2 separate regions of the Homo sapiens genome follow, and region 1 is linked to region 2. Evidence: fine-mapped expression QTL. Tissue or cell type: uterus. Region 2 holds a variant in brackets; the other region holds the start of a gene. All regions are shown on one strand. Distances are between the middles of the regions.

Region 1 (8,093 bases), 110 kb before region 2:
CTAGAGATGGGGTTTTGCTATGTTGCCCAGGCTGGTCTCAAACTCCTGGCCACAAACAATCCTCTTGCCTTGGCCTCCCAAAGTGCTGGAATTACAGGCATGAGCTACTGCACCTGGCCACACATCTATTATAAAAACTTAAAATTTATCAAAACTTACACACACACTTACAGATCTTACATGGCAGCATTTGCAGTCAAGAGAAATGTAAGCAAATGTAAAAATGCAGTATTAAATCATAACTGCATAAAATTAACTGTAGTACATCGTGGAATACTGTAATAATTTCGTAGTTACCTCCTGTAACTATCCCGGGATCTCAAGTGTCCCAAGTTGCCACTTAAAAGGCCATGTGATGCTAATCGTCTCCCCATGAGCAGTTCATCTTGCCAGTACATTTTATAAGTCAGTAAAAAGTAATCTCTCACAGTTCTCTTGCATTTTTCATCATGTTCAGCGCTACACTGTAAACCTTGAACACCACCATGGAACCCATACAAAGTGCCACTAGTGATGCTGGCAGTGCTCCCAAGAAGTAAAGTCATGACACTACGATAAAAAGATGAATTGCTTGATATCTACCACAGATTAAAATCTGTAGCTGCGATGGCCTGCTATCTCAAGATAAATGAATCCAGAATAAGAATCAGTGTAAAAAAAGACAAAAATTCATGAAGCCACTGCAGCAGCTATGCCAAAAGGTGTGAAAACCTTGCACTTTTTGTGAATTAACTTTTTATCTTGTATTAAAAAGGCAACTTTTATGTAGATGCAGGATTCCTATTTTAAAAACATAGACTAATACAATAAAAGAAAAAGTAAGGTTACCATATGACAACTTAAAAGCAAAAGGAATGTGAAGGATCTAAAGCTAAAGAATTAATTGCCAGCAAAGGATGATTTGATAATTTTAGAAGGAGGTTTGACTGTGGAAGACAGTTCTAGATTCCTCAAGAATCTAGAACTAGAAATACCATTTGACCCAGCCATCCCATTACTGGATATATACCCAAAGGATTAAAAATCATGCCACTATAAAGACACATGCACACGTATGTTTATTGTGGCACTATTCACAACAGCAAAGACTTGGAACCAACCCAAATGTCCATCAATGATAGACTGGATTAAGAAAATGTGGCACATATACACGATGGAATACTATGCAGCCATAAAAAGGATGAGTGACATGGATGCAGCTGGAAACCATCATTCTGACCAAACTATCACAAGGACAGAAAACCAAACACCACATGTTCTCACTCATAGGTGGGAACTGAACAATGAGAACACTTGGGACACGGGGGGAACATCACACACTGGGACCTGTCATGGGGTTGGGGGCTGGGTGAGAGATAACATTAGGAGAAATACCCAATGTAAATGACAAGTTAATGGGTGCAGCAAACCAACATGGCACATGTATACCTATGTAACAAACCTGCACGCTGTGTACATGTACCCTAGAACTTAAAGTATAATTTAAAAAAAAAAAAGAAGAAATAGGTTTGGCTTTGGCTTTAGAAATATCAAGATAACAGGTGAAGCAGGTTCTGCCAACTAAGAGGCAGCAGATGAGTTCCCAGATGCCATTAAGAAAATCACTGAGACGAAAGAATATCTCCCAAATCAGGTTGTTAATGCTGATGAAAGTACCCTATTCTGGAAAACATGCTACAAAAGACATTAGTAAGGAAGAGAAGGGAGCACCAGGATTTAAGCCAGGAAGGGATAGGCTAACCCTACTGTATTGTGCAAATGCAGTTGTGTTTGTAATCAGGACTGTCCTTATCTATAAAGCTGCTAACCCCTCAATCTTGAAAGGGAAAGATAAACATCAGCTGCCAGTCTTTGTTGGATAAGAAGGCCTAGAGAACAAAAACCTTTTCTCTGGATTGGTTCCATGGATGCTTTCTCCCTGAAGTCAGGAAGTACCTTCCCAATACGAGACTGACTTGTAAAGTTCCTCTGCTAATGGACAGTGCCCCACCTCCCCGCTACCCAGAACCCCATGAGTTCAACATCAAAGGCACTGAAGTGGTGTCCTTGCCCCCAAACACAATGTCTGTAAATCAGCCTCTAGATCACGGGGTCGCAAGGACCTTTAAGGCTCATTAAACATGATTTTCTACGAAAAGGATTGTCAACCATGGAAAAGAACACTAATAGAGAAAACTTCAGGAAAATCTGAAGTTTACATAATTGAAGATGCCATTATTATTGAAAAAGCCATGAAAGCCATAAGCCCCAAACAGTAAGTTCGTGCTGGAGAAAACTTTGTCCAGGTGTTGTGTTGTGTTATAATTTCACAGGATTTACAAAAGAGCCAATCAAGGAAATCATGAAAGAGGCTGTGAATATGCCAAAAACGGCGGGAAAGTGGGTAAAGGACTTCAAGATATGGATCTTGAAGAAACTCAAGAGCTAACAGCCACCAAACCAGAGGAATTAACAGAAGACAGCTTGATGAGTGCTTCAGATCCAGTGCCAGATAACAAGGAAGAAAACACAGAATAAACTACCAGAAAAACGAACATTAGATAATCTGGCAGAAGAGCTCCTATTGTTCAGGACTGCTTTTGACTTCTTTTATGACATGGACCCTTCTGTGAAGAGGCACTGAAACCAAAGCAAATGGTGGAAGAGGTATTGGTACCCTATAGAAACATTTTTTTGGGGGAAAGAGAAAAGCAAAAGCATGACAGAAATTATGATGTACTTCCATAAAGTTACACATAGTGTGTCTGCCTCTCTTGCCTCCCCTTCCACCTCCTCCACCCCCACCCCTTCTGCCTCTGCCACCCAAGAGAGCAAGACCAACTCCTCCTCTTCCTCCTCAGTCTATTCAACATGAAGACTATAAGGATGAAGACCTTTACAATTCACTTCCATTTAATGAACAGTAAATATATTTTCCCTTCTTTCTGACTTTCTTAGTAACTGTTTCTTTTCTCTAGCTTAATTTAAGAATACAGTATATACTATATATATATTTTATATGTGTCAACTGACGGCTTATGTTATCAGTGAGGCTTCCAGCCAACAGATTATTAGTAGTTGTTTTGTGGGGGGAGTTGAAAGTTACATGAAGATTTTCAGCTGTGGCGGGGGCATCTCTAACCCCCATGTTCTTGAAGGGTCAACTGTATATCCAAAGCTACTAAAATACCCTTCTGGTATCTTTTATTTTCTTTTTTTTGAAACAGGGTCTGGTTCTGGTGCCTGGGCTCGAGTGCCGTGGCACTATCATAGCACTATCATTGCTGCAGCCTCAAACTCCTGGGCTCAAGCAATTCTCCCACTTCAGCCTCCCAAATGGCTGGGACTACAGGCACCACACCACCCCGACTGTTTTAAAGATGGGGTCTTGCTATGTTGCCCAGACTGGTCTTGAACTCCTGGCCTTAAGGGATCCTCCCACCTCAGCCTCCCAAGTAGCAAGAACAATAGGCTCACCTACCATGCCTAGTTCCTTCCTGTATCCTTTTCACTTGCTCAACCCTTCCTCTCTTCCTCTTTGCTCTGTACTACATGAAATACCGCCATTTCTACATGCCATTCTGCTCATGCTTTTCCTCTACTTAGAATGTCATTTGTTTTTCCTATCATAAATCCACCTAAACGTCATATTTTCTAACGTCTTTCCAAATTCCTCTAATCAATTCTCTGACTTTGCTGGCTCTCCCAGCAATTTGATTATATCTCTATTATTACACCTTTATAAATCTCACGCTGCATTTAGTGTTTACCTGTTTCCTTCACTAAATCAAGAACTTCTTGTAGGTAAAGGACTTACGTATTAACCTCTTAGGCTATTAAAATCAAAATAACTTAAGGAGTAATTTCTTAAATTCATAATCCACATCTCTAGTCATTTAGGATAGCTATTATAAAAAACAAATGGGATTTTTTTTTCAAGAAAGTTGAAATATTGACCATTCTGATATACTCGAGGAGAGTTTCTACAGTTCCATTAAATATGTAACACTTTTTTCCTGCTCTAGATTAATCAGATTCAGGGGTTTAGGAGCCTTACTTAAAAGGAGTATTTTACTCTGGTCGTTAGAAATAAAGTAATGGCCAAATATGACGCAGGCAACGTTTCAAAAAGCATTACTGATAGGATAAGATTTAAAAAATAAAAATTCAAAGCAGTTGTAAATTTTTACGGAAACGATTCTTAAGACCGACACCACACAAAAATCGACCTAAATGTTCTGCAGGAAGGCACATCAATTACACGCTTTCGTGTCTTCATAAAAATCCATTAGAAAAACCTTAAACAGCGCACTCAAGGAGAAATATATAAAAACAGGCTGTGGACATTAAAGGAAAAAAAACCACCACAACATTTGGGCCACAGCAGGCAGGTATCCCAGTTCCTCATACCACGTGCACACTATGTCTCTAAAGAACTTCAAACCCTGCCCCTGCCCCCAAACAACCGTCCAAACCACGCCAGGTACACACACCACTGTCACCGCTTACTGACAAAGCGCCACTACAGGAGGGGCGGAGAAGTCTATGGGAAAACCAAGCAAGGAAAAGGCCGCCACGAAGACAGTAGTGGAGAGACAGGGGAGCAAAGAAGAACCAGAGCTGTCAGCGCTAAGGGGACCAGGCTGAGGGGACCCGCACGGACCTTTCTGAACAACACGCAACTGCAATGCACCATGGCTGCAACAGGCCAGGAAACCTTCTTGCGGAAGCGGCACAAGCCGCAGTACAGCGCGGCCTTTTTACGTCATCCCCTGCCGCCGACGCGATTTCTCCTCCGCCCACACCTGCGGACTGGCGCATGCGTTGTGTGATGCTCTCGGGCGCCACCAGCCCCATGCGCTGTGCTTTGCACCCCACGGGTGGGGAGAGAAGGCGTTTTATCTATTAAAACACAGAGATAATCTCGAGAAGCCGTGGGACAAAGGACAGTAGGGCGTAGGTTGCGTGTCTCAGGAATTAACATTTTGAATGGAATGGAACTGAAGACTCAGCAGCCTTGGAGCAGCTTTTATGCTAATTGAGGAAACTAAGAATCTTCACCCTCAGCGTGAAAAAACCTCCAACGGACCATAAAACCAAACGTGTAAAAGACACAGAAACTCAACTGGGAAAAAAGAACCCCCAAAAGCCGTTAGTTCAGTGACGAGCTGAGTAGTCTCCAGCCAAAGCTTCCAGGAGACCATGAATTTAAAACTAGCGGCCGCACAAAGTTTTATTGAAAATAATGTCAGGATCTGAGATCTGTAAGAGGACTCTCCTGTGCAGTAAGAGAAAGAAGCTTGTTTACAACTGTCAGAAAGTAGCTTCTTGGAGTCGGGAAGACGGGTTTTTATCCGTCATTTGAAGCGTGCCTTTGTGAGAATTAAGACACGATGTGAAAAATCCCTCTCTCTCTTGATTACTTTTCAGGACCAGAAGAGAGTAGCTCTCCCCAACCCCTCATGCAGCGAAAAAATGTATGCAGCTGAAGTAAACGGCCCTGCACAGCGTTGCCAGCCGTATAACTCTTAACAACCCAAACTAATAAATCCTAGAAACCTTTCATACTTTGATACGATATGGCTCTGTGTCGCCACCCAAATCTCATCTTCATTTGTAATCCCCATTGTGGAAGTAGGGAAGTGATTGGATCATGCAGGGCTGTTTCTCTCCTGCCGCTCTCCTGATAGGGAGTTCCCACAAGAGCTGACGGTTTTATAAGTGTTTGGAAGTTCCTCCTTCTTTCTTCTCTCTCCTGCTTGCCATGTGAAGAAGGTGCTTGTTTCCGCTTCCCCTTTTGCCATGATTATAAGTTTTCTAAGGCCTCCCCAGCCATGTAGAACTGTGAATCAATTAAGCCTCTTTCCTTTATAAATTACCCAGTCTGCGCAGTTCTTTATGGCACTGTGAAAACTGACTAATACCTCAATGTGACAGTGTCTTCTACTCCTCACTTAGGACAGTGATTATTTGGAAAGACATGATGTGAAAACCCCGTCTTGATTACTTTGCTGCTACTGGACCTTCTGCTTACAACCACCAATCAGAAAAGCTGTAGTTGTCATTTAACCTGCAGTAGTTGTATTTTCCCTCTGTGGATTACTTTAATGTTGAATATTAACACCAGCAACAGATGTTGATTACTATCAGTGTTCCTACCTCTCATTAATATGAACATTAGGTTGTTGCTGTGTAGATGTTTTTAATTTAATGACATTTGCTGCCATTAAGATTACTATCTTACTAGGTTTTCCTATTGTGTCAGAATAGTGTTGAGCCCAATGTACTTATTTTCCAATGCCTATTTCTTGTTAGTGAACACAATCTCAAATACTTTTCTTTCACATAACATATACATGGGGAAATGATCACAGCAACTAAAAAAAAAAAAATGGGAGATTGATATAGAAATATCTCAAAATGATGAGGATCATTGTGTACTGTAAACAAAAAAGAAAGCATAATATTTACCTCTGACAAAATGTGGTCAGGGCCTGAAGTATTTATTATAACTCTCATTACCAGATAGTAAAAGAAACATTGTGTAACTGGAAACTGTCCCCTTTAAAATGTGCAGCTAAAATGAACATGAGGCAAAATGTTTAGGACACTATTCAGACCTAAGGCAGAAGTCATTGTTGGAAAATACTACTACTTCTGCCATGAAGAGGAAAGAATGCCTCCTTAGGGTTGCTCAGTTTGATGTATGGGCAAACCATTAAAGTCAGTGGCACTAAAGAGTCTTGAATAAAGTCCCAAATAAGCCATCGACATGACTCACAATTTGGTTTTAAAAATATTTTAAAACAGGCCAGGCGCAGTGGCTCACGCCTGTAATCCCAGCATTTTGGGAGGCCGAGGCGGGTGGATCACGAGGTCAGGAGATGGAGACCATCCTGGCTAACACGGTGAAACCTCGTCTCTACTAAAAATACAAAAAATTAGCCGGGCGTGATAGTGGGCGCCTGTAGTCCCAGCTACTCAGGAGGCTGAGGCAGGAGAATGGCGTGAACCTGGGAGGCGGAGCTTGCAGTGAGCCGAGATAGCGCCACTACACTTCAGCCTGGGCGACAGAGAGAGACTCTGTCTCAAAAAAAAAAAAAAAAAAAACAAAACAAAACCATATATATACACACATACATATATACATACATATACATATATACATATATACATATATACACATATATACATATATATGCATATATACACATATATACATATATACATATATACACATATATACATATATACATATATACACATATATACATATATACATATATACACACACACACACAATAATGAGGGTTATGAAAAAATTTAATATAGAGTTGTTCTAATTACAATTTTAAATAATTTTATTTTGAAGTACTTTTTAATTTACAGAAGTTACAAAAATAGCCAAAAGAGATTCCATGTAATCTTTATCCAGTTTGCCCGAATGTTAACATCTTTTATAACCATTTTTCAAAACTAAAAAAATTAATATTGCTAGAATATTAACTAAACTACAGACTATTTGCTTTCACTGGTTTTTCACCTATGACTTTACTCCAGGGTCTAATACTAACACCACATTGCATTTAATCTAACATTTAATGTAGATACACTTAAGCATAAAATAGACAAATATATAATTAACAAATCTAATATTTTGTGATGTTATATTGCTTAATTTTGTCAGCAGACTAAAATGAAAAGTGTCTAACTTCATTCTGGGCTTTGCAGATTATTTCAATTGATCTTGTGTCATCATCTCAACTGCTTTTAATTAGATTTCTACCTTTTGTCTATCATGCTTTTAGTTCTGCTTGTTCAAGAGTCCCTAACAAGGTCCGTCTGGCTCAGGCCTTGTAATCAGTAGATACTCTAGGAATATTTGTTAATTTATTCAAACGAAAGACAAGAACTAGATTGCTAACTCCTATAGCATACGAATCACCTGAAGTGGAGCATCGAGTTATTCTTACTCATTAGCCTTATAATCCTTCAGATGTAACAAATCAAATATTATTTGTTTCATGCCGTCAAAATATTACAAGTCTGAGAACCATTATATCTCCCAAATGATGAAGTTAAATGGATCAAACAAATGAGGTTTACATACTAGG
Region 2 (8,111 bases):
ATAGAAATGCTTGAATGTGGTAACAATTCTACAGAATTTAATATCTCTGTTAAGTTACAAATTGCAATTTCTTAGTAGCACCTGTAGACTTAAAGATTAACTAGTAGTTTTAATAATATATTGACTTACAAGTTTTACTTTTAAAAGTAACAAAGAAAGCTAAAAATGTTTTAAAATAAATATATTGCAAATTGTGGTTCTATTTTCCTTCTGACTTTTTCTTGTTTGTACTCTGCCTAATTAGCAATGTTTAGTAAAATTATAATTATTTCTAATCATATGAATAATTATATATTCTTGAATTAAGAATATGTCTAATAAGTATTTGAGACTATATATGAATTTTATAGTCTCTAATGCCAGATGTTCTAAATGTGCAAGCAAATGTTATTCCTTTCTGAATTAGAGTAATTTATTTTAAATAAAGAATGTTTATAGCACATATGAAATCTAGTCATAGTTTTTAGTAGGTTAGCTTTAGGGAAATTCTGTAAGAGAAGAAATGCATACAAAACCAGAATTTATTATACTTAATTTTTTTTTTTTTTGAGACAGGGTCTCACTCTGTCACCCAGGCTGGGGTGCAGTGGCGTGATCTCTGCTCACTGCAGCCCTGACCTCCCTGGGCTCAGGTGATCCTCCCACCTCCCACCTTAGCCTCACGAGCAGCTGGAACTACAAGTGTGTGCCACCGTGTCTGGCTAATTTTTGTTGTTTTTTGTAGAGATGGGGTTTCACCATATTGCCCAGGTTGGTCTTGAACTCCTGGGTTCAAACGATCTGCCCACTTTGGCCTCCCAAAGTGCTAGGATCACAGGCGTGAGCCACCGCTCCCAGCCTATACTTCACTGTTTTAAAAAACTTTTTCAGGTTGACAGCACAGAAACAAAGCCTAAAAACAAAACAAAAGTAATTACCTCTTTCCAACAGAATCATTAATGTACATTTGGGAAGAATAAGCACGTGGAACAGAAAACGAAAGTAAAAGAATAGTCACCCCTGAAGACAACCATTCTAATGAAAAGTATACTAACAATAACCCAAACTGCAAGTGATTTTTAAGTAGGAAGCTGCAGGAACTACTCGTGTTTAGTGGAAAAGTAAACAAATTGAAAGTAAAAAAAATTAAAAGAAGAATTTATAAAGCGCTTTTACCCAAAGCTTCAGTTCCATGACATGGGAATAATTATATGAAAAAAAAATGTTCCCGAGATTTTAGAACAACTATTTATTGTGTTTAAATGGTGGGTAGTTATAGTGCAATAACCCCAGGATAGAACTGTCTTTGTTGTGGAGCAAGATTAATCAGACAGGTTTGTTCCAATGACATTAATTATTTGAGTTCTATATCTAAATTGACTTGTTTTGATTCTATGAACCTTGTATTAGTTTTTGAAGACTGCTGTAACAAATACCACAGACTGGGTGGCTTTAACAACAGAAATTTATTTTGTTACAGTTCTGGAGGCTAGAAGTTGAAGACTAAGGTGTTGGCAGGATTGGTTTCATCTCGAGGCATCTCTCCTTGGCATGCCGTCTTCTCCCTTTTACTTCACGTGGTCTTCCCTCTGTGCATGCCTGATTCCTAATCTCCTCTTCTTATGAGGACACCAGTCATACTGGATTAGGGCCCAACTGTATGACCTCACTTTACCTCTTTAAAGATCCTATCTCCAAATACATTCTGAGGTAGTGTGGGAGTTAGGATTTCAATGTATCAATTTTGAGGAAACACAGTTCAGCCCATAACAGATCCCAGTATCTTTTGAATTATAACTTCAATTCTTATAAACAGCAGATTCAAGAATAAAGTATGTTTAATCAAGGCACAAATGGTATTCTCGCCTACAGGACACTGATATTTCACACAGTAGTGCTGAGTTACTATTTTGATTTAACAGTGTATGACTGTACATTTGATCAATGTGAATCTGCCCCTGAGGGGTTTTTCTACTCTCAGGGGTCTCAACAAATCTGGATTTTGAGTCTGCAGGGTCCCGTGCCTGACTTTCTCAAAGTCATCATTTGTCTCTTGTTTCACTTCCCATTAGAAGAATCCACTACCAAAAGTACTGTACTAGTCTAGGTTCCCCAAGCCTGCCATAAACAAACAACACCAACACTCACCTGCTGCCACTCTATGGGGAGTACTATCTCTGAGAAACAGAAGTGAGGAAAAACATGGAAGTGAGGCAGTAGGAGAAGGGAACACAAACACAGGTGTTAGTGAGCTTGTCATAGCTTTGCAACAAGTGCAGTTAATTGCTCGGTCTTTGAGGATATTTTCATGAAGGTCTTATGAATTATTGCACTTTAGAACAGCCTATCTGGGGGAAAGGAAGGGAGAATTTATCTACTAGCTTCATTTTGTGCTGTACCTCCTTGATCAAAGTTCACTCCTTAAGTAGGGTTGCCAGATTTAGAAAAATTTTAAAAAGCCCATGCTTATAATAAAAAGTAATTTATTGTTTGTCTGCAATTCAAATTTAACTGAGAGTCCTGTATTTTACCTGACAATCCTCCTCTCAGGATATTAGCACCTAAGCATTTCCAGGCAGCAGCTGGGGAAGCCAGAACCTCCACAGACAGATCTGGTGCACAGGCACAAAGGTCAGTTACTCCTTGTCAGTGGCACAGTGTACAGGACTCCTCAACATATAGCAGTGTGGTGGTGGTGGTAGTGGCAGCAGCAGCAGAAACTCTTTAGGACAACAGGGTAGCGCTAGGCCACTGGCCAGGAGGCAAGGCATGAGGAAGAGGCAAGAGGATGTAGGCATGGCTGCATGGATGCGGGATGATAAAAAACATAATTTTCTGTAAAAATGGGTAATTATTTATTATAATATCTCTTTAGTATCCATCATAGATCACATTATACTAGATACTGGGGATTTAGTAGTAAATAAGACAAAATTTCTGCTACGGGGAGTTTACAGAATAGCTTGAATATTGTGTGTGTTCTGATTTAAAGATGCTTAATGAATGCTAGTAAAATGAAATAATGTAATAAAATAAATGTAAATGGAGGTTTTTCTAAATGACTATTTTAGTAAAAACAAACAAAACCCCTCCATAACTATCACATGTATTGCTTTCTGGATGCTTCTGAAAAGAAATAACTCAGAAAAGTATTAGAAGGCCTCCATCAAATACTAGAATTATTATTTAATGAGAAAAAAATCCACGTGTATACAACATTTCAAAACAGAAGTTAAATCATTAAATAGTACTTTTTATTTAAATGTTTATAAGGCAGATCTATGAGAATGATAGAAAACATGGTGTGTAATTTGATAGCAATATTTTGGAGATTACAGAGTTTTAGTAATTACCAATTACACAGTTAAAAAGAAGATAATATATTCCAAGCAGATACAAAATATCTAATGAAAGATCAAGGCAGGAAAATGAGTATAACTAATTGACAATGGAAAATCAATTTTAATGTGAATTGCACATTATCCTTTAAAAGCTTTCAAAAGAAAGAATTATTGCAGTCTAGTTAATTCAGACAGTGTTAAATGGTATCAGGATAAAGAACTGAAGGGCAGAAAGAATTAATTTTCACTTCATGTAACACACCCAGATTTACAATGGCTTAAATGCAGGAAAAAGCAGTGGAAGTAGGGAAGTAGTCAAGGTCTTTCTGGTCTCTAATCTGCCTTACTCTTTGGGTGTGGCTTTGATCCTCTGGAGACAGCTGCCAGGGCTCCTGTTATATCCACAATCCCAGCAGCAAGATGAAGGGATGAAAAAGGACACATGCTGCCTTCCTTTGAGGAGACTTCATCTCACTGGCCAACACTCAGTCACATGTACACCTAACTGCAAGGACAGCTGAGGAATGTAATGGGCAGCCGCTTTTAAAGAAGTAGAGTCAATAGGAAGACAAATTCCAGTTCCAGCTCAGTCTGGGTATCTGCAAAGCTGCAAAAGATCTTTAAAGACAATTTCAAGAGAATATTTCCTTAAAGTTGGCAATTTGGAGATCATACAAAAGCATCTGCTTTTGTGATTTAATTTAGCTCATCTGGCCACTGGAAGAATCCAAACAGTCTGCCTTAATTTTGGATGAATGCATGATGGAAATTCAATAATTTAGAAAGTTAAA[A/G]AAAACTCAGTATGTTAGGCTGAACAAAACATTTTTTAGTAACATATGGAAAGAATCTCTGAAAATTAAGCACTGTATAATTTTCTCATACTAAAAAAAAAGTGAAGAACCCATTCATTCATGTAAAATTCACTGTTTAAAGGTAAAAACAGATTGAGTTTCCACTGAAATTATTACAGTTTCATTTAGGGCTAATCATTTGTCCTGAATGTACATCAGAATTTGTTTTACCCACTGATGAACAATTGAAGGTAGGGTGTCTCATTTCACAATATAAATCTTAACACTGTGAGGTGTGTTATACTATGTATGTATCTTGTTTTAAGTCATGGATTTACAAAATAATTTCAACACATTTTAGGCTGTTTACGTATTTCAAAACAGGGATTTCATAGACTGACACAGGAATAATTAGTTCAGTGTTCACAGTATTCCTAAATAAATATTTACTTATTACATTTATGATACTTTATTTAAAATACCACATTAGAAACTTTAAATATTTCATAAATAAATCTCTTTTTTGGGGGGAAACTGTACAGAATTTATTATGAAATAGCTTAATGGCAAGTGGTAATTTAGAAGAATTAAGTTATCAGATAGGAGATATATTAAAATATTTAAAAATTGGATATATTCTTGAAGCCCTTTTACACAAGTAATTTCTATAATTTGATTGTAATGAAAGTATAATATACCTTGTTACTATTATCAGATTAATTTTTGAAAGTAGAATTCCTTAATCAAGCCAAGGTTATGCTGCTTTATAAGAAATTAATCAGGTAGTTTAACACTAGAGCTCATTAGCCAACCTGTATGTAGCACAAAATAATCATCTCTGATAAATACCTATAAATATATTTTATTCATACTTTTAAATATTTTACAATTCAAATAAAAACCTTATATGTAGACAATCTGGGCTAAATTTCCATGTATGTTTTGAAAAATAATGTTAGCATGAATAGATTCATATTTAAATATGATTTTAAATACTCTTAATAGAGGAGACATAAGAAATATTTACATAAAAGCTAAGTAGCATGATACAGCTCATGGTTATTTTCCTCATAGGAAAACAATTACTTGATTTTTTTTTTTGCATAGGATTAAGACTGAGTATCTTTTCTACATTCTTTTAACTTTCTAAGGGGCACTTCTCAAAACACAGACCAGGTAGCAAATCTCCACTGCTCTAAGGTTCTCACCACCACTTTCTCACACCTAGCAATAGTAGAATTCAGTCCTACTTCTGAGGCCAGAAGAATGGTTCAGAAAAATAATGATTATAAAAAATAACAATTAAGAAAAATAATCACATAGAGGTAAAATAAAGCAACTAAACATCATAGTTTTGCATTTTTAGAAAAGCATTTAAACATTTAGAATTATAGTAAATATATTACATTTATTCTAAAACTTCAAAATTATTCTGTTTTTGTAGTACTGAAAAGAAGATAGTGCCATTTGAAACAACAGATGCATCTTTTATACATTTTCACAAGTTTGTTTTTCATATTTTTAAAGGCCCCATTTATCTGTAACAGTGGTATTTTTATTTAGAGTATCGGCTACTTAATATATACATGCAACAATATATGCTTTAATAGTCATTTAACTTTTAGGAATATTTCATCACATTAAGTGGTTAAGCATAGTGTTAAAAGAGTGGAATTTAAGGAATAAGAAAATATTGAAAATACGCTGTTATTTTCATTAGTTCACTATAATAGAATGTTTTTGCCCATAAAAGTTATCATTGCCCAACTGAATTCCTACCAAGAACTAACAAGTGATTCTCAAGTGGGGAGAAATATTATTAAAATAAAGAAAATAGAGGGCTCAGTTAGAAAGTACAAGATAATAGGCCGGGCGCGGTAGCTCACACCTGTAATCCCAGCACTTTGGAGGCCAAGGCGGGCGGATCACGAGGTCAGGAGATCGAGACCATCCTGGCTAACACGGTGAAACTCCGTCTCTACTAAAAATACAAAAAGAAATCAGCCGGGCATGGTGGCGGGCACCTGTAGTCCCAGCTACTCGGGAGGCTGAGGCAGGAGAATGGCGTGAACCCGGGAGGCAGAGCTTGCAGTGAGCCGAGATCGTGCCACTGCACTCCAGCCTGGGTGACAGAGCAAGACTCTGTCTTTAAAAAAAAAAAAAAAAAAAAAGAGGGTACAAGATAATAAAATTCACCAAGAGAACATTAGAAAATCATAAGTGAATTACCAAACTGACAAGGCAGTTGTAGAAAAAGAGTCACTGGTGGGAAAGGTAGCCTCTACTAAATAAAAGTCTTTTTATTGTTGGCAGTTGGATTCAGTAGTACCTACGTGGGTAAGTTTAGAAATGTTATAATTTCAGGAAGAGGAACGCATATAATTGTATCTTGCCTATAATTTTCTATTTTAATAAGGAAATAGCAAATTGGGGTGGGGGGAATGTAGGGCATTCTACAGTTTGAGCAAAATGCAATTAAATGTGGAAGGACAGCACTGAAAAATTTTATGAATAATCTGTATGATTATATGTCTCTAGAGTAGATTTATAATTAGCCACTTACCCTAATATCCTTCATGCTTGTAAAGTACTCCCTAATGAATGGTTATGCAGGCAGGAGAACTTCTCAGGAAGAGAAAAGGAGAAGACTAACTCTACAGAGATTTTTGAAAGACTCCGTGGGATCTCAGCAATTTGTTAACACTGCTAGGGCCCTTCACTGCATAGGGAGGCATATGGACTGCCATGGGTCTCCAGGCTCATGTTCCAAGCAAGAATAGGGTAAGTAACTGTGAATTACCCTACAAGCAGTAATAAGTTTATTATAATAATATTTTTATACATTTTTGGATGCACCCAACCCACTCTAAAGAATGTCAGTGACTTTATACAAAAGAGGAAGCATCTAGATTGGCATTGTGAACATAATGCATAGGGGCGCGGCGGGAGCTCTAGAGCCTAGTGGTTAAAACCGTGGCCTCTGGAATATGACTACCTGGACTTGAATGCTCACTCTGCCATTTATTAACTGCAAGACCTTTGAAAAATAACTTTTCTATCCTTCGGTCCCTCATGTGTAAAATGAGGATAATAACTACTTATCTCACGGGGTTGTTCTAAGTATTAAATGGGATAATACAAGTAAAGTACTTAGAACCATGCCTAGCACATCAGAATCCCTCAAAGAACATCAGTATAATCCTATACCATAGCAAGTGGTGACTGGTTAAGGTGCGACAAAGGTCAGCTGGCAGATTACTTGTGTGCAAACTTGATACTTTTGTTCTAAGTAGGAACTAGTATACAGTTCCTAGGATTGGTACCGTATTAGAGATAGCAGTTTTGGAAGCCAAATGTTACTGAATCCTCTTCCTGATCAGTATATTAATATGAAAATGAAACTGCTCTGTAACACAATAAAGAATAAAATCTTTCATGAGGTATGTATTATCAGTATGTATTTCATGTCTCAAATATATTTTAAATATAATTTCAGGTTTAATTTGTCTTTTTAATTTGTGTCTCTTCATATAATCACATTGCTTCATACAATTAATTTCATCCTTCAAATCCTATTTTATGAGAGAAATATAGGAATGCTATCATGCAGCCTTACCTAGATGCTAACATAACGTGTCCTTTCTTAAAAAAATGTATAATAATGCATTTCTACTTTTTAAGTTGAATAATTAAAATCTTAATCTTCAGAAAAAAATGTATATCCATTGAATTATTTTAAAAGCTTAAAATTCTGCTGGTTTGCAAATTGTTTTTAACATTATATCTATATTATTAACTGTAAGTATTTTTGCCTGATTATGAAATATAAAGTAACAACAGGGTTACAGTTGTGCAAAACAAAACAAAACATACCTAAATTACAATAATATGTTGACTAGAAAAATTCATATTGGCAAACATGACATTTGTGAAAATTAACTTGAAGAAAACTCTATCACTAAGTCAGTTGAAATCTCATTTAACAAGTTTCAACCCACGA

Alleles and levels. Alleles are on the strand shown, and positions count from the first base shown. SD is a standard deviation of normalised expression in the study named.
With allele G in place of A in region 2, the expression in uterus of the gene that starts at base 4,701 in region 1 is lower (moderate effect, 0.60 SD a copy in GTEx).

The links. PIP is the estimated chance that this variant, and not a neighbour inherited with it, causes the effect.
Region 1: GTPBP10 starts here. The variant in region 2 is fine-mapped to the expression of GTPBP10 in uterus (GTEx, PIP 0.96).

Annotation. Positions count from the first base shown.
Region 1 is chr7:90,343,324-90,351,416 of GRCh38, reverse strand. It overlaps GTPBP10 (GTP binding protein 10), which reads right to left and starts at 4,701. Exons shown (of 10, transcript NM_033107.4): 1 at 4,643-4,701. The coding sequence starts at 4,675. The region is part of intron 1 of LOC107986715 (a long non-coding RNA gene); the gene reads left to right. It overlaps LOC101927446 (a long non-coding RNA gene), which reads right to left. Exons shown (of 6, transcript NR_110085.1): 6 at 7,323-8,093. RefSeq lists enhancers at 4,456-4,885, 5,096-5,235.
Region 2 is chr7:90,232,718-90,240,828 of GRCh38, reverse strand. STEAP2 (STEAP2 metalloreductase) reads right to left here. Exons shown (of 6, transcript NM_001244944.2): 6 at 3,146-8,111. It overlaps LOC107986819 (a long non-coding RNA gene), which reads left to right. Exons shown (of 2, transcript XR_007060423.1): 2 at 1-3,242. Among named protein-coding and RNA genes, the nearest start is that of CFAP69, 8.4 kb to the left of the region's middle. RefSeq lists a silencer at 6,064-6,269. The variant A/G (reference allele first, on the strand shown) is at 4,112.